3 separate regions of the Homo sapiens genome follow, and all the other regions are linked to region 3. The links come from fine-mapping of genetic effects on gene expression. Tissue or cell type: whole blood. Region 3 holds a variant in brackets; each other region holds the start of a gene. All regions are shown on one strand. Distances are between the middles of the regions.

Region 1 (5,827 bases), 73 kb after region 3:
TATGGTTGAAACTGATTTGATATCTGTTGAGATTTGTCGTGCACCCTAGTAGTTGGGTCATTTTTGTAAATGTTCCTTGTGTGATTGAAAATAATGTGTTGGTCTCACACAGGTCTGAAATTTAAATTTTAAAAGTTAAAAAACTAACTGTCAGGTTTTCTATTGGGGTTCATTGATCTTGATTAGTAACTGTATTAACATCCTCTATGTCCTTTTTTTTTTGGTTGTTTGGTTTATTAGTTACTCAAAGAGGTCTTATGTCTCCCTATGATGGAGGACCTGGCAATTTCTCCTTGTGTTCTTAATATATTTTCAGCCTCTTTTTTTTTTTTTTCGAGACAGAGTCTCACTCTGTTGCCCAGGCTGGAGGGCAGTGGCGCAATCTCAGCTCACTGCAACCTCCGCCTAGCAGGTTCAAGCAATTCTTGTGCCTCAGCCACCTGAGTAGTTGGGATGACAGGCGTGCACCACCACGCCCAGCTAGCTAATCTTTGTATTTTTAGTAGAGACAGAGTTTTGCCATGTTGGCCAGGCTGGTCTTGAATTCCCAGCCTCTAGTGATCCACCCACCTCGGCCTCCCAAAGTGCTGGGATTACTGGCATGAGCCACTGCGCCTGGCCTATTTTCAGCCTTAAAAACAAAAACCCTGGAACATAGAAGTTCAGAACTTTCCTCTCTTCACAGAGTTCCTCCTCGCATCATTTCATGTTGATCCTCTTATCCCCAGTGTCTTCTGCCTGAAGGCCTATTTTGTCTGAGTTTTCTATAGGTACATCTTTTGGTTAGTTTTTCTCTAGTACACCTTTTCCCATCGTTTTACTTTTTGGTGCCCTTAGGTTTTAAATTTCCTCTTGTAAATAGCATAGAGCTGCATCTTATTTTTTCTTGGCCAATCTGGTCATCTGTGTTTTAAGAGGTGAATGTAAACCACATTTTCTACCTCTGGTTTTGTACTATATATTTACCATCCCTTTTACTTTGCTTCCTTTTTCTCCCTTTCTGCCTTCCATTATAGTTTTAATACCCATCACTACCCTTTTCTCTGCATTGGCAGTTATAGTTCCGTTTGTATTCTTTTGGTGATCCTCTTAAATATCTGAAATACACACCTGACTTTACAAAGCCAGACAATGCTCAGTCTCTTTAACCCCCTCTCAAATTGCCCTCTCAGTCTTCCATGTTCTTGTGTCTCATGCATCTTGTTTCTGTGGCCCACAAATTAATCATTATTATTCATATTGCATATTAAATGCTTGTTTAGATTCACATGTTTACCAATTTGCTCACCATTTTTCCATCTAATTTCTTCCTTTTGGGTTCCATGTCCTTGTTACTAAACTACATTCTTTAAAAATTATTTCGGCGGCCAGGCGTGGTGGCTCACACCTGTAATCCCAGCACTTTGGGAGGCCGAGGCGAGTGGATCACGAGGTCAGGAGATCGAGACCATCCTGGCCAACATGGTGAAACTCCATCTCTACTAAAAATACAATAATTAGCTGGGGGTGGTGGCAGGCGCCTGTAATCCCAGCTACTGAGGAGGCTGACTGAGGCAGGAGAATCGCTTGAACCCGGGAGGCAGAGGTTGCAGTGAGCTGAGATCGCACCACTGCACCCCAGCCTGGCGACAGAACGAGACTTCGTCCCCCTCCCCCCTCCCCCAAAAAAATGTTGATCTTCAGTCTGCGCATTCTGCTCTGGATTTTAAGCATCATTTCTGGCAGCTCTTTTTCAGGAACTGTCTCTGCAGGTCTTTCAGTGTTCGCCTCTGGAGCTCTGCTCGGGCCCGCGAGTTCTCCTGGCGTTGCCATCTGTGCCCTTTTCCTTATTCCCCATCACCTGTCTCTCTGGTGAGCTGCTTCCGATCAGCCTCCAGGTCCACGATTTCTCTTCTGTTGTCCTTTTCTGCCTTCTCACCTCATCCTCTGAGACCTGAATTTCGATGGCTCTACTTTTCAATTATATTATTCTTTTTCAAACCTGGGCGTTCATTTCTAGCATCCTGTTCTATCCTGTGTCTGACTGTGCCTCCCGCACCTTCTCCCTTCTCTCGCCCTAAGCCCCGTGAAGGCGCCGGGCCTTTGGCTCCGGCTGTTTCCCACGGCGCCCAGAACCGCGTCAGTCCTGACACAGACTCGGTGAGGGCGGGAAGTGGTGCCGTGGGGCTGCAGCCTGGCCCGCCCGCTCCATCGGCCTAGGGCGGCCCCACCGCCCTCCGGGCCTTACCTTGAGTTCGGGCTGCGGGAGAAGCTCCCGCGCTGCCCATGACGTCACGGGACTGTGACGCGCCCAGAAGCCCCGCCCCTCGCGTCCCGGTCCGCGGACCCAGGCTCTCTGCGCCGTGACGTCACGGGTCCGGGCGGGCGGGTTGTGCGTCGGCCCAATGGGAGCGGCGCACTGGCCTCCCCTTTAAGGAATGTTGTGACCTGACGTCACCGGGCGAGTTACCTCCCGCAGCCGCAGCCGCCGTGCTCAGCGCGAGCCCCGGAGCCCTTGAGCGCGAGGCGCGGAGCCCCCGGAGCCCCCAAACCGCAGACACATCCCCGCGCCCCAGAGCCCCGGCCTGCGCGCCCAGCCGGGCCCGCGCGATGCCCTCAGACCGGCCTTTCAAGCAGCGGCGGAGCTTCGGTGAGGCCCGGCAGGCGAGCTGCGAGCTCTGGGGCAGGGGTGCCGGCCGACCCCGACTGCCGCAGGTGACGTCAGCCCCGTGACGTCAGGCTCTGGCTGGACCCTCGGGCTGGGACCAGCTCCGGCCTGGGCGGGGGCTGCCCGCTTCCCCACCGCGATAGGTGCCAGGGGCTGTGGGGCCTGATGGCCCCGGGGGTGGGGGCTGGAGCTGGGGCGTGGCCGGGGGCCGCCCCTCCGGGACAGGCGGGGCGGACCTGGGCCGGCCCGACCCGGCCTCACGGTCTGGCCGCTGTCCGCAGCCGACCGCTGTAAGGAGGTACAGCAGATCCGCGACCAGCACCCCAGCAAAATCCCGGTGAGTCCCGCACCCCCAGCCCTGCCCCGCCCCCGCCTCGCGCGTTCCCGACACGACCCCCTGCCCGCCCGCCCTGCTCCCAGGTGATCATCGAGCGCTACAAGGGTGAGAAGCAGCTGCCCGTCCTGGACAAGACCAAGTTTTTGGTCCCGGACCATGTCAACATGAGCGAGTTGGTCAAGATCATCCGGTGCGTGGGCAGCCGCCGCCAGGAGGTGGCTAGGGTCGGGAGGGGAGCCGGGTTCCCGCCGAGAAGGGGTGGGAGTGGGGTCAGGGGTGATGGGACCGGGCGGTGGGCCCCTGTTCTGGGGTGGCTGGAAAGGTCAAGGTCGGGGCTGCAGTCGGTGTTGGGTCAGAGGTGACAGCTGGGGTGAGAATGGGTGTGAAAGGCTGGGAATCATTCTGGGGGTCAGGGCTATGTCCGTCCCGCAGCCAAGCCCCTCACAGCTGCATACTCTCCCGCCGGCTGCAGGCGCCGCCTGCAGCTGAACCCCACGCAGGCCTTCTTCCTGCTGGTGAACCAGCACAGCATGGTGAGTGTGTCCACGCCCATCGCGGACATCTACGAGCAGGAGAAAGACGAGGACGGCTTCCTCTATATGGTCTACGCCTCCCAGGAAACCTTCGGCTTCTGAGCCAGCAGTAGGGGGGCTCGGCCTGGGAGTCGGGCGGCCCCGGTCAGGCCCTGCCCAGAGAGCTCCTGGTTCCTGAACTGAGCTGCCTCTACCGTGGTGGGCTGGGCAGGCATGTGCCCCCCTAGTCAGAGGGCACCAACCCACCTACTCTGCCCCTGGGTGGATCCTGGGCCGGTCGTGTTAGGGTTGTCCCTCTGGGTGCTGGCTGGTGGGATGGGGGAGGGTGGGGAGCAGCTCCCAGCACCCCTGCTGTGTGGTTCATCTTTTTTTTAGGCCCCTGCCTGTCTGCCCATCTGCCCCTCACCCACCCGAGGCTCTGCCCACCGCCTGGACCTGCCCACCCCTGAAAGACTGGCCCCTGGCTCCCCGCCCCTCGGTCTCCACGTGGTGTATGGATCTGTGGTCATTGTCCCTCTGCAGAATAAAGATTGCTCAGGCCTGCCTGGCCCTGTGCCTCCAGCCGCTTGCTTGGGAGTGGGGAGGGTGCTGGTGGGGCTGCCCGCACCATCCCCGGGCTCTGGCGCACAGACTTGTGTTCTGTGGCCGCGGTGCTCGCTCTGGAAACCCACACCTGTGTGTAGTGTTCCAGAACATTATTAGGGGCCACCCCCTCTAGGAGTGCAATGCAGATGTGGTCTCAGGGTAGACTTCATAACAAAAAACATTTATTAAGTAGCCACAATCTAACAAGCCCTGCTCACCTGCCTCTTCTCCTTCCTGTCTGGGAGGGGGCTCCTTGGTGTGCAGAGCCACAAGGTGGGGGTCCAAGTTGGGGAGCTCCCAGTTCTTCCCCATAGGCCTTGCTGTCAGTCAGCCATGGGTCCCTTTTGGTACCAGAGACTTGTGACCCTGGACTCGAACCTCTTCTGCCCAAGCACTCGCCTGCTGGCAACTCTGGCTGGAGGGCTTGGCCCAGCTTCTGGCCCCACAGCCCCCTGAGGTCCATGCAGCCCTGTGCCAGCCAGGCCTACTTGAGCACGAGCATGGCCTCTGTGCCATCCTTGGCGGTCAAGTAGAGGCCATGTGTGAGGTAGTACTCCCGCCGCAGGAAGGCATAGAAGTAATCAGAGATGAGCAGGATCTGGGGGGAGAGAGAGGGTGTGAGGCGCTGCTGGGTACCTCCCCCTAAACCCAGGATCCCTGAACTGCTGGCAGGTGTTGTTGGAAGACAGGAACGCCCCTGCCTGGCTCTGGATCACAATCACTGGAGAGGCCCTCCTCAGGGCCCCCACCTCAGGGCCCATAATTGACCCTGCAAGGTCTGGCCTCTCAGAAGCTGCCTGGACTCCCCCTGCCCCCACCCATGGTCTACACCTCCATCCCAGGCTCTGGCCTCGAATGCCAGCCTGGTGCCTGTGCAACCAGAGGCCTCTGCCCCATCCTCCCACAGCCACTTCCATCCCAGCCAGGTCCACATCAAACTCCTCACCTTCCCTCTGTCAAATACACTTCTCCCACTCAGCATCCATGCCCCCATCTTCCAGCCAGGTGCCCAGGCCACAAAATTGCCCTGACACTTCTCTCATACATCGAGCCACCATGACCTGTCAATTCCCCCTAAACTCAAATCCACCCTTTGGATCCATCCCCACAGTCACTACTCTGGACAGAGCCACTGTCATCTCATCTCCTAAACAACAGCAAAGCTTGGTCCTTGGGCTCCCTGCTCTCAAACCCGTGCCCACCCCATTCTCCCTGGCAGCCAGAGGGAGCTTTTCAAAACCCACATCTGATGGTGTTACTTCCAGCCTTCAAATCCTCCAAAGGCTTCCCAAGCCTTAGGGCAAAGCTCGAACTCCCTCGTGCTCTGAGACCTTGCTAGGGTCCCTGTCCGCCCTCTCCCGGCTCCACCTCACCCCACGGCAGGATCTTTACTGTTTCTTCTGCCTGGAATGTTCTCTCCCCGTTCATCTAGTTGACAGCTGCTTACTCTTCAGGGCTCAGGAAGGATCACTTGCCCCCCAGATTAGTTCTTGGCCCCACTAATCTCTACTCGATAACAGACTCATCGAAAGTGTAATTTTCCATTCAGCTGACAGCCTGACTGTGCCTCCTCCCCTGGCCCGGGGCCTCCATCAGGGCAGGGTCTTCGAATGGTTCTGTCACTATGGTATTTCTGTGCCCAGCTCAGTCTGTCTGTCCCATTCTGGGCCACACACAGAAGAATCAAAGGGAGCCTAGAAGCTCAGCCCACTGTCTCTTCAAGGA
Region 2 (5,827 bases), 220 kb after region 3:
TCTCAAACTCCTGGCCCCAAGCAATCCTCCTGCCTTGGCCTCCCAAAGTGCTGGGATTATGGCTGTGAGCCACCACACCTGGCCAAGTAGAATCTTGAAGACAGGAAAGATCTGGATTTCAGAAAGTTCTGAAGAAGGCATTCCAGGCAGGGGAAACAGCTTGAGCAAAAGGGTGGAGGTGGGAGAGTGCTGTAGAGTCAACAAGGAGTTTGACTTTAGCACAAGATGCGTGTAGGAGAAGGGGAGGTGAAGCTGGAGAGAACTGGGGCCGGAGCATGGGGGGCATGAGTTCTGTGTTAGGAGTGTGGGGCTTTAGGAGCCACATCAGGTTTTAGAACAAACAAGTGGCTTGACAGGAGAGACGTGTTAGGGATTATTTAATTAAAGTCAGCAAGTAGGTCTGAAAGGGTATGAGGTTAGCAGGAAGTGGCTGTGATGGGCAGAGGCTCAGAGTTGCATGGAATGAGGACACTTTGGGTATAACACTCCAAGGGCCACAATGCCACTCCCCTCTCCACCCCTCAGCCTTGGGTTATTTTTTTCTGGCTTCTTCCCCTGTCGCTAGGGTTAAGGAGTCCCTTGGGGGTTTCAGATGAGGCTGGGATAGAGTTTTATCACTAGAGTGCCGGGCACGGTGGCTCACGCCTGTAATCCCAGCACTTTGGGAGGCCGAGGCAGGCAGATCACAAGGTCAGGAGACCGAGACCATCCTGGCTAACACTAAACATACAAAAATACAAAAAATACAAAAAATTAGCCGGGCGTGGTAGCGGGCGCCTGTAGTCCCAGCTACTCGGGAGGCTGAGGCAGGAGAATGGCGTGAACCCGGAAGGCGGAGCTTGCAGTGAGCCGAGATCGTGCCACTGCACTGCAGCCTGGGCAACAAGAGCGAGACTCCGTCTCAAAAAAAAAAAAAAAGTTTTATCACTAGATCATTAACCTCTGGCCTAGGTCACCTCCGGCCTCCTTTTGGGCTAGGTGGGCAGTTCTCGGACCCTCCCCCACCAGCCCTGCTCTGCTGACCTAGAACCTCTGGCCCTGGAGATTCTGATATGTGTATTTGTGGTCTCTTCTCGGGCATCTCCCAGGCCACTGGGAGAGCTGGGGCCTAGAGCGTGGGGTGGGTGGAATCCTGAGGGCAGAGAGTGTGGAAGAATCTTACAATGGCAGCTCTAGAGGGAAGCCTGGATATGTTTGTTTGACAAACTGAGACCCAGAGAGGTAACATGACTTGAGGTCACACAGCAAGTCTAGGGCACAGTCAGGACTGAAAGCCAGGACTCTGGGGAGGCTAAAGCGCCCTGAGGTTTAGACCATCTGGTTCATGTAGAGAATGGAGAGGGTCAGGGCTGGGAGCTATGGGTTCAAATCCTGGCTCTGCCATTGACTGTACTTTTGTGACCTAAGAAAGTCACTTGAGCTCTCTGAGTCTGTTTCCTCAACTGTTAAACGGGACAATATCTACCTTTTGGGTTGTTGTGAAGATAAAAAAACACACCCATAGCACAGGTCGTGGCACACAGTAAGTGTGCCAATACATGTCAGCTAGTGGTATGGTGGTGCAATAGTAGGTGCCTAATAAATGTTGAATGCATTGTTGAACATGAGTTCACACGCTAACAGTGAGATTGTGAGACTCAGCTTTCCCACGTGTAAATCAGGACTCATAATCAGTCCCTGTCCTGCCACTTCTTTACAGCCCCGGTAGCAACATAGATTAAATAAGGTATGTAAACGTTCAAGCGCGGAGCCGTCTCAGGTCAATGTTTACTCAGCCCAGGGCAATTCCTCTCCAAGTCCTACTCTGCGAAATTTCACGTCAGCTTCACTAACTTCTCTACATTCCCAGATGCTCCCCGGGAACCGGGGGTTGGGGATGTCCCTCTTTTCTCAAGCCCGCCGAGCTGAGGAAAAACGGGGTGGGAAAGCAGAGTGTGTAAGGCTGAGGAGGTGAGCCAGAGGGGGGAGGGAGAGCAGGAATAAGGGCAGTGGGGAGAATGCAGGTGCACGGACGTGGTGTGGGTCGAGAACAGGGTCCGCATCGGGGGACTTGGATATAGGATGCAGTGAAAGGATTTGGGGAGCAGTGGGAGAGGTGAGGGCGCTGCGATCCGGGAAGAATCAGGAAAATAAGGAGCCGGTAGGAGGGAGTGGAGATCCTCCTCGCGGAGAGCTCGCCGCGGCGCAGGGCTCCCAGCTCCCCGCAGCTGCCTCCCCGAACACTCACCCTCCCGGTTCCGAGAACGTTTCCCGGCCCGAGCGCCCGGCCCGCAAACCGGGAGGGGAGGGGAGGGGAGGGGCAGGGGGGGATCCGCAGCCCGGGATTGGCCGCCGCCCCGCCAGCCGGTGACGCGAGGCGGGCGGGCCCCTTTGTGACGTCACAATCAGCTGTTTGAACGTTCCAATTTGTGCCGTGAGCCCCGCCGCAGCGGCCGCACAGACTCAAAGCCCCGCGGGCGAGCTCAGCAGCCCGGAGCGACCGCGGCCCCGCCGCCTCCCCCGCGAGTCCCGGCGATGCGGCCCGGCCTGTGAGCGGCCGGCGACCCTGGGACGCCCCGCCGCACAACTACCTCAACGCCGTGCCGCCCCCCTCCCGCCCCCAGGTGAGTCCCGACCCGGGTGGGCCTGGGGGCTCCCCTGCCACGGACACGCCCTGCGCCCCCCGCGCCCGGGCCTTTGTCTGTCTCCGCCGGCGGCCGCCGGGGCCGCGTTCCCGGCTCCCGATTGGTTGCCGCACGCCCGGTAGACCATGACGTCGTTCTATTTGCATATGACATTGAGACGTCACCAAGGCCGGTACCGCCCCCACAGGCTCGGGTCGCTTGTCCTCCCGTGACCCGGTAGCCGCTGTGTCGGGGCTGGGCCCTGGGTGAGACGCTGCAATCCAAAGGGGGCTGCAGGGGGATCGGCGATTTCCTAGGCTTATCCAGGGGCTGGGGTCAGGCCTCTGATCCCCTACTTTCTCTTTGCAACCTGAGAAGGAGTCAGACGGCGCTGCTGGGCCTAGGTTGAGGGGGTCGTCAGGAGTTCAGGGCTGCATGGGACTCCAGGTGGTTGGGACAGCACCAGATGGTGGTGGGATCCCCTCCCTCCGGCTCCAGACTCCGCCCCCAGGGACTAACAGAATAACATCCTCCTAATCCCTGATTTGTGTGCAGCGCCTTAGCTGATGTCACTCCTAGACCCAAAATGAAGGGTCTTAGACCCCAGTGCATGGAAGGGGCAACAGGCCCAGAGAGGAGGATTAGCTCTCTCGAGGTCACATAACCAATTAGAGTCATGCTCACTGAGTGACAGATGGATTATTAGCCAGGGGCAAAGACATAATAGGGGCTCAGTACAAGTGGTAAGATACACATCCTCCTTCCACTGGGGACCCGATCTTGGGCTCAGCCTTATCACGGTTTGATAGGCTCCTAGGTGTCCTTACTCCTGGACCCTTTTCCAGGGAATCTCTGGAGATTGGTTCACCTTTTGTGGTCCTGACCCCTTCTGTCCTCACTGTACCTTGAAGTCCTAGAGTCCAATAAAATCGCTGCCTCCCAGCTGTTTGGATCACAGAGAGGTGAGTCATTGGCTGCCTCGGGGTGTCTCCAGGGCTGATGTTGGGGTGGAGGGTGGGGTGAGGGTTCCCTCTATTGGCCCTTTACCTTCCCAACTTCCTAGGTCGTCAGCTAGGAAGGGCCTGACCTGGCCTAGTGCAGACAATTGCAGGTGTTTTGCTGCTCCCTCGTCACCTCTGCCCACAGAGAGTATAGGAGAAGGGATAGGATAAGGAGAGTTTCTGACTTAACAAGTGGATGGGCCTAGAGGCTGAACCAGGAACTCCATTCCTGCTGGGAGTTTGCTCAAGGATGGGCTGGGGGTAGGGGTGGCTTAGGGCACAAATGCTATTCTGGGCAGAGCTGCTGTAGTTATTAAAGGGAATGGTTCTCCCTGGAGCAGAACTGGGAATGTGAGAACCAGGAAGCTGGCAGGGCTGGGAAAGGAAATCTGGGAGGCTCCCCAAGTGGTCAGGAGAGGGGGCAGGCACTGGCTGGCTGGTGACTGCTTTCACTCCTGGCTGTCACTGACTTGCTGTGTGACCTCAGGCAGGGAGCTTTTCCCCTGAGCCTCCCTCCCCTAAACCTATCTGAAATTTGGGGAGGCACAGTGCAGGCTCTGGTACACAGTGGGTCTTCAGTAAATGCATGCTAAATCTTGGTGCCAGTAACCCCAGACCCTTTTGTAGCTAGGCGAGGGGTGGTGTGGCTAGGTCAAGGTCTTTTTCACCTCCCTGTACCCCTGCATCATTGTATTCTTGGGGATTGTTTGCTGAGTCTTTCCTGACTGTGTACACTCTGGACTGGATGCACAGTAACGTGGGACTAGGTCTGCCCTGCCACTATCTAGCCATGTATTTTTGGATAGATTTATGTCTTCTTTCTGATCATCAGATTTTAAAATGGGCTGGGTGAATATGATGGTCCCTGAAACAGCTCTTAACTTCTCTTTCATATTCCATGAATTAGTAGGTTCTTGGAAGGAGGATGTGCCTCATCAAGGCCTCGATATTCCCTTCCTTCAAGAGGGGCCAAACTTTCTGGGCTTTTGGTAATGGAGTCACTAGCTCCCTGTGGCTACATATGGGTTGGGATACATGAATTGTGCTGGGTGGACACTAGTTGGGGGTGGCCCCACCTTCTTAATCCCTGTAGATCTCCCACCCCCATCCCACCAGAGAAGCCAGCATCTTAAGCCTACTGTGAGTCTGCAGATGTGGAAATATTCTCAGGGTATGGAAGTGAGGTGATTCTGCAGCAAGTGTGAAAACATTTCTAGGGAATGGGGGAGGTAGCAATAAGCATGGCAATACTGCAGGTGGATTAGCAGAAAGAGGAGAAATGCCTTCAGGGAAGTCTGGACATGCCCCCAGGAAGTTCTACAGGAAGTGTGGAAACACCCTTAGAGAATGGTGACAAGTGTCTCAGCAGCAAAACCGTTGAGCATCTTTAGGGAACAGGTGTGGAGAGTCAGTCAGGCTTCAGGTACTGGGGGAGTATGGCCAGCAGCCCCCAGCCAAGCTCTAGTCCTGAGGTAGGCTGGCATGGGGAGGGGGTAGATCTAGAGCTACCACCTTGGTGTTTCCATTTCTGCAGTAGGGGGCCTCCCTCTTCATCTTCACCCAGGGAAGGATTGGTTAAGGGCTTACCTCGGTCTGGGTCCAACCCTCAGTGCTCATCCTTAAGGGCTCCTGGGAACTGACAGCTCCCTCCCTTCATCATCACCTCCCACTGACCTGCTGTCTCACTGAGCCCAAGCAACCTGATCTTCCTCCTACCCCTGGATGCTGCCCTTGAACAGGAGCCTGGGAAAAGGGGGTCAGAGGGGGGAGGGCCTGCCGGCATGCCATCTTTACACTTCATATGACAGACACAACCGAGGTGTGCCAAATCACATGGTAAGATGGTAGCAGTTCTATGGGATTTCTGCTGGCCAGTGCTTTTCAAACCACACAGGCTCCAGGAGTGGTTCTTAATCTCTGGGGTCAAAGATTGCTGTTTAGGAAATCATGATGAAAACCAAGGTCCTTTTTCCCAGAAAAATACACATGGACCATGACCCCTGGCCACCAAATTGAAAATATCAAATTCAGACAGACACCCAGAAAAGGCAATAGAATATAGTGATTCTGGGTGCTGCCTCTGGAATCTGATTGTGTGGATTCAATCCCACCTTTGTCTCCTACTAGCTCTGAGACTTTGGGACAGTTAACTTCTCTGAGCCTCAATTTCTTAACTGTAAAGTAAGGACAGTAATTATCCACTTCCTGTAGTTGTTGTGAGGA
Region 3 (5,827 bases):
TCCAAACTTTTATGCTCTGCTTCCCTTACAAAACTGAATGCCTTTAACAGCACGCAAGTCTCCTCTTGAATGCTTTGCTACGTAGAAATTTATTCCACCAGATACCCTAAATCATCTCTCTCAAGTACAATCGTCTCTCTCAAGTACAAATCCACCAGTCTCTAGCACAGGGGCAAAATGCTGCCAGTCTCTTTGCTAAAACATACAAAGAGTCACCTTTGCTGCATTTCCCAAAAAGTTTCTCATTTCCATCTGAGAACACCTCAGCCTGGACTTTATTGTCCATATTGCTGTCAGCATTTTGGTCAAAGCCATTCAACAAGTCTATAGGAAGTTCCAAACTTTCCCACATTTTCCTGTCTTCTTCTGAGCCCTCCAAACTGTTCCAACGTCTGCCTGTTACCCAGTTCTAAAGTTGCATCCACATTTTCAGTTATCTTCAGCAGCACCCCACTCCTGGTAACAATTTACTGTTTTCACACTGCTGCTAAGACATACTTGAGAGTGGACAATTTACAAAAGAAAGAGGTTTAATGGACTTACAGTTCCACATGGCTGGGGAGGCCTCACAATCATGGTGGAAGGCAAGGAGGAGCAAGGCATGTCTTACATGAATGGCAGCCGGCAAAGAGAGAGCTTGTGCTGGGAAACTCCCATTTTAAAACCATCAGATCTTGTGAGACTTATTCACTATAATGAGAACAACATGAGAAAGGCCCGCCCCCATGATTCAGTTATCTCCCACTGGTTCTCTCCCATAACACATAGGAATTATGGGAGCTACAAGATGTGATTTGGGTGGGGACACAGAGCCAAACTATATCATAAGGTTGGGTAAAATTTATAACTAAAATGATGTTTTATAGTATATCCTTTCTGATTATTTCCATTGGTTCATGCTACTAGTCTCAAGAGCTAATAGTTCATTCATACCTTCTCAATAGCAATTCTTTCCAGCCAGGGTTAAATTTTGCATATTTACTTCTTAAGTTCCAGGTTCTGCATTTCTTGCCTGGTTTTTCCCTCCATAATTGAAAGTATACTATTTAACACAGTGAGCTGTCATTATTTCTTGGACAACAATCTATCCTTTTAAAAGTTTATTTTGAAATCTGCTTTTAAAATGTAGTCAATTCGTTTTTGTCAATTCTCCAGTTTTTTTGTTATGATATGTCTAGATTTTCTTATGACATATATAGCATTCCAGAGAGGTAATGTTTCGAGATTCCAAGAGATGTACTACGTTTCTCAATAGTTTTGTTGCTGGTAAGATAACATTTTAAGATAATGGGCAGCTAAAAAGGTTTTTAGTATCTACTTCAATAATGGCTTGCTTAAAATTTCAGAGTTTGGGGGGTTTTTAGTATTATTTTAAGAAGTATAATTTCCTTAGAATAAAATGCACTGATCTTAAGTGTAGAAGTTGAAATTTGACAAATATATATATCAGCCCAAATGTGAGCATTTTATGGAGAGAAGTTGTGCTAGATCACTCATTTAATTACCAATTCTGTAAACACTGTTCCATATAGCATCATGTCCATGTAAATATGACCCAAATTGTGGAACTTTTTTTTCTATTCTGGACCCCATAAGGGGCCAATGCACACCTCCCTTCTCCCAGCCCCAGAGGTAGGTAACCATTTCTGTTTAGTTCTATTTCTATAACTGTTTCTGATCTTAAACTTCCTAAAATGAAATCATAGAGTATGTACTCTTATATCTAGCTTTTAGTGTCTGATTTTTTCTTTTATTTGGTGTTTGTGAGATTCAGCCATATTGTTTATATCAGTATTTTATTCCTTTTTATTGCTGAGAAATATTCCATGCTGTGTATATCTCAAAATTTGTTTATCCATTCTCTTGGTGATAAATGTTTTGGTTGTTTCTCAGTCTGGGGCTTTTATGAGTAAAGCTGCTATAAACATTCTTGTGATATCTTTTTGTGGACATATTTTTCTTGAGTAAATACCTAGGAGTGAAATCGCTGGGAAGGTGTTTGACTTTATTAGAAACTGCCAGTTTCCCAAAGTGTTTTTGCCATTTTGCAGTCCTACTAGTAGTATTTGAGAGTTGCTTCACGTTCTTGCCAATTCAGCATTGTCAGTAATATCTCGTGGTTTTAATTTCCATTTCTTCCTTGACTAATGGTGTCAAGTACGTTTTTCTATGCATATTGATCATTTGTAGCTCTTCTTTTGTGATGTGTGTATCCAAATCTTTTATCCATTCTAAAATTGGGTTGTCTTTTTATTTGTGATTGTTGGAGTTCTTAAATATTTCAGATCATTGATTTTAGAAACTCTTCTCTTTCCCTTCTTCCCTCCCTCTTCTTACCTTTTCTTACGATACGTCTAGATTTCGTTCTTCTTTGACGGAGTCTTGCTCTGTTGCCGAGGCTGAAATACAGTGGCACGATCAGAGCTCACTGCAGTCTTAAACTCCTGGGATCAAAGGATCCCCCTGCCTCATCCTTCTGAGTAGCTGGGACTGTAGGCACAAGCCACTGTGCCCAGCAAATTTTTTGGTTGTTTTTATTTTTGTAGAGATGTGGTCTTGCTATTTTGCACAGGCTGGTCTCAGACTCCTTGCCTTAAGCTATCCTCCCACATTCTGTTTTCTAATATAAGGATTTAAAGCTGCATATTTCCAACTAAGTATTTCTTTAGCTATATCCCACAATTTTTTGTTGTTTTTTTTGAGATAGAGTCTCACTCTGAGGTTGCCCAGGTTGGAGCGTAGTGGTAGAGTCATGGTTCACTGTAGCCTCAACCTCCTGAGCTCCAGATAGCCTCCCACCTCAGCCTTCCAGGTAGCTGGAACCACAGGCATGTACTACCATGCCTGGCTTACTTATTTATTTATTTATTGTAGGAGATGGGTCTTACTATGTTACCCAGGCTGGTCTCCAAACTCCTGGATCCAAACGATACTCCCACTTTGGTCTCCCAAAGTGCTGGAATTATAGGCATGAGCCGCCGCATCCAGTCCACACCTTTTTTTTTTTTTCCCCCGAGACAGAGTCTTGCTCTGTCGCCCAGGCTGGAGTGCAGCGGTACAATCTTGGCTCACTGCAACTTCCATCTCCTGGGTTCAAGTGATTCTTCTGCCTCAGCCTCCCGAGCAGCTGGGATTATAGGCACCCGCCACCACGCCTGGCTAATTTTTGTATTTTTAGTAGAGACGGGGTTTTGCCATGTTGGCCGGGCTTGTCTTGAACTCTTGACCTCAGGTGATCCGCCTGCCTCAGCGTCCCAAAGTGCCTGGATTACAGGCATGAGCCACCACGCCCAGCCACAAATTTTGGAATGTTGTGTTTTTCACTATTTTATTTATTTTATTTATTTATTTATTTATTATGTTTTATTTTTATTATTAATATTTTTGAGACAGGGTCTCACTTTGTCACCCAGGCTGGAGTGCAGTGGTGAAATCTTGCCTCA[C/T]GGCAGCGTCCAATTCCAGAAGTTCAAGCGATCCTCTAGCCTCAGCCACCAAGCAGCTGGGACTACAGGCATGTGCCACCACACCCACATGACGAGATGGGGTTTCACCGTGTTGCCCAGGCTGGTCTTGAACTCCTGTGCTCAAGGGATCCACCCACCTCAGCCTCCCAAAGTGCTGGGATTACAGATGTCAGCCACCACATCCAGCCACTCTCATTGTATTTAAAAGTATTTGTTAGGTTTTTTTTTTTTTTTTTTTGAGACGTAGTCTCTCTGTCACCCAGGCTGGAGTGCAGTGGTGCCATCTTGGCTCACTCTAAGCTCCGCTCCCTGGGTTCACGTCATTCTCCTGCCTCAGCCTCCGGAGTAGCTGGGACTACAGGCGCCTGCCACCACACCTGGCTAATTTTTTTGTATTTTTAGTAGAGACAGGGTTTCACCGTGTTAGCCAGGAAAGTCTCAATCTCCTGACCTCGTGATCCCCTCACCTCAGCCTCCCGAAGTGCTGGGATTACAGGCATGAGCCGCCGTGCCCAGCCAGGTCTTATTTTTATCCTGATAATCTCTACTTTATAATTGGAGTGTTCAGTACATTTATGTTTAATTTTATTACTGATTTGGTTGGACTTTTGTCTAACCATTGCTATTTGTTTTGCTATTTGTCTCGCCTTGCTATTTGTTTCTTATTTTTCCCAACTTTCTTTGTTCTTTCTTGCCTTCTTTGAATAAAGCAATTTTTACTTTCTTTTTTAGCTCTTCTGTTGGTTTTTTAGCTATACCTCTTTGTTTAACTTTAGTGGCAACTCTAATGATTATGATAATATGCATCTTTAACATCCCTGTTGACCCAAACACTACTTCTTGTACAATATAAGAAGCTCATAGGCCAGGTGCGGTGGCTCACACCTGTAATTCCAGCACTTTGGGAGGCTGAGGTGGGCAGATTGCCTGAGGTCAGGAGTTCGAGACCAGCCTGGCCAACATGATGAAACCCCGTCTCTACTAAAAATACAAAAATCAACTAGGCATGGTGGCAGGCACCTGTAATCCCAGCTACTTGGGAGGCTGAGGCATGAGAATCGCTTGAACCCAGGTGGCGGAGGTTGCAGTAAGTCGAGATCACGCCATTGCGCTTCAGCCTAGGGGACAAGAGCGAGACTTCGTCTCAAAAAAAAAGAAAAGAAGCTCATAATAATATAATTCCATTTACCTCACTCCAGCTCTTTGTGGTGTTGTTGTCATATATTATTTCTACGTGTCACAAATATAATACTTTGTTACTGTTATTCTTGCTTTAATTTTTAACTATTTTCAAAAATAATCTTATATTTACTCACATTACTATTTCTGGTTCTCCTTATTTCTTTCCTCAGATTCATTTTTTTTTTTAAATCTAAGATAATTTCCCTTTGGCTTTAAAAAAAAAAACCTTTCTTTACCATTTCACTTAGTGTGCATCTCTTGGTGATGCATTTTCTCAGCTTTTATATGAAAACATCTTTATTTCACCTTCATTTTTTGAAGGATATTGTCACTAGATTTAGAATTCTAGGTTTATAAAATAATGATGCGGTCATGTTTTTATGATTTATGTTTTAAAAAATAATCCTCATGTCGTAGAGACAAATACTGAAGTATTTGTTCAAAATGAAATTATCTGGGCTGGGCGTGGTGGTTCGTGCCTGTAATCCCAGCACTTTGGGAGAAGGCAGGCAGAACACTTAAGGTCAGGAGTTCAAGACCAGCCTGGCCAACATGATGAAACCCCCGTCTCTACTAAAAACACAAAAATCAGTTGGGTGTGGTGGCGCACGCCTGTAATGCCAGCTACTCGGGAGGCTGATGCACAAGAACTGACTGAACCTGGAAGGTGGAGGCTGCAGTGAGCCCAGATTGTATCATTGCACTCCAGCCTGAGTGACAGAGCGCGACCCTGTCTCAAAAAACAAAAACAAAATAAAAGAAAAAAAAAGAAATTATATGGCTTGGCAATGGTGGCACACGCTTGTAATCGTAGCACTTTGGATGGCGGAGGCAGGAAGATCACTTGAGGCCAGATATTTAAAACCAGCCTTGGCATCACAGAGAGACACCATCTCTACATACAAAACCAAAAATCAGCCAGGCGTGGTGTTGCACACCTATATTCCCAGCTACTCGGGAGGCCGAGGTAGGAGGATTGCTTGAGCCCAGGAGGTCGAGACTGCAGTGAGCCAAGATTGTGCCACTGTGCTTCAGCTCAGGTGACAGAGTGAGACCTCATCTCAAATAAATAAAGAAATGAAATTATATGATATCTAGGGTATGAGTAGGGGCATAGATGAAATAGATGGGCATTGTGATGAAGCTTGGACATGTGTACAGGGGGTTCATTATGTTCTATT

The links. PIP is the estimated chance that this variant, and not a neighbour inherited with it, causes the effect.
Region 1: MAP1LC3A starts here. The variant in region 3 is fine-mapped to the expression of MAP1LC3A in whole blood (TOPMed, PIP 0.98).
Region 2: it holds the start of TP53INP2, and the variant in region 3 is fine-mapped to the expression of TP53INP2 in whole blood (TOPMed, PIP 0.96).

Annotation. Positions count from the first base shown.
Region 1 is chr20:34,556,280-34,562,106 of GRCh38, forward strand. It overlaps MAP1LC3A (microtubule associated protein 1 light chain 3 alpha), which reads left to right and starts at 2,439. Exons shown (of 4, transcript NM_032514.4): 1 at 2,439-2,629; 2 at 2,929-2,984; 3 at 3,068-3,174; 4 at 3,457-4,066. The coding sequence starts at 2,590. The coding sequence ends at 3,619. It overlaps PIGU (phosphatidylinositol glycan anchor biosynthesis class U), which reads right to left. Exons shown (of 12, transcript NM_080476.5): 12 at 4,263-4,700. The coding sequence ends at 4,587. RefSeq lists silencers at 2,141-2,230, 2,571-2,620, 4,195-4,244.
Region 2 is chr20:34,701,910-34,707,736 of GRCh38, forward strand. It overlaps TP53INP2 (tumor protein p53 inducible nuclear protein 2), which reads left to right and starts at 2,435. Exons shown (of 5, transcript NM_021202.3): 1 at 2,435-2,603; 2 at 3,449-3,565. LOC105372599 (a long non-coding RNA gene) reads right to left here and starts at 2,273. Exons shown (of 2, transcript XR_936690.3): 1 at 2,228-2,273; 2 at 1,750-1,904. RefSeq lists a silencer at 2,231-2,710.
Region 3 is chr20:34,483,330-34,489,156 of GRCh38, forward strand. The region is part of intron 20 of ITCH (itchy E3 ubiquitin protein ligase); the gene reads left to right. Among named protein-coding and RNA genes, the nearest start is that of MIR644A, 20 kb to the left of the region's middle. The variant C/T (reference allele first, on the strand shown) is at 3,444.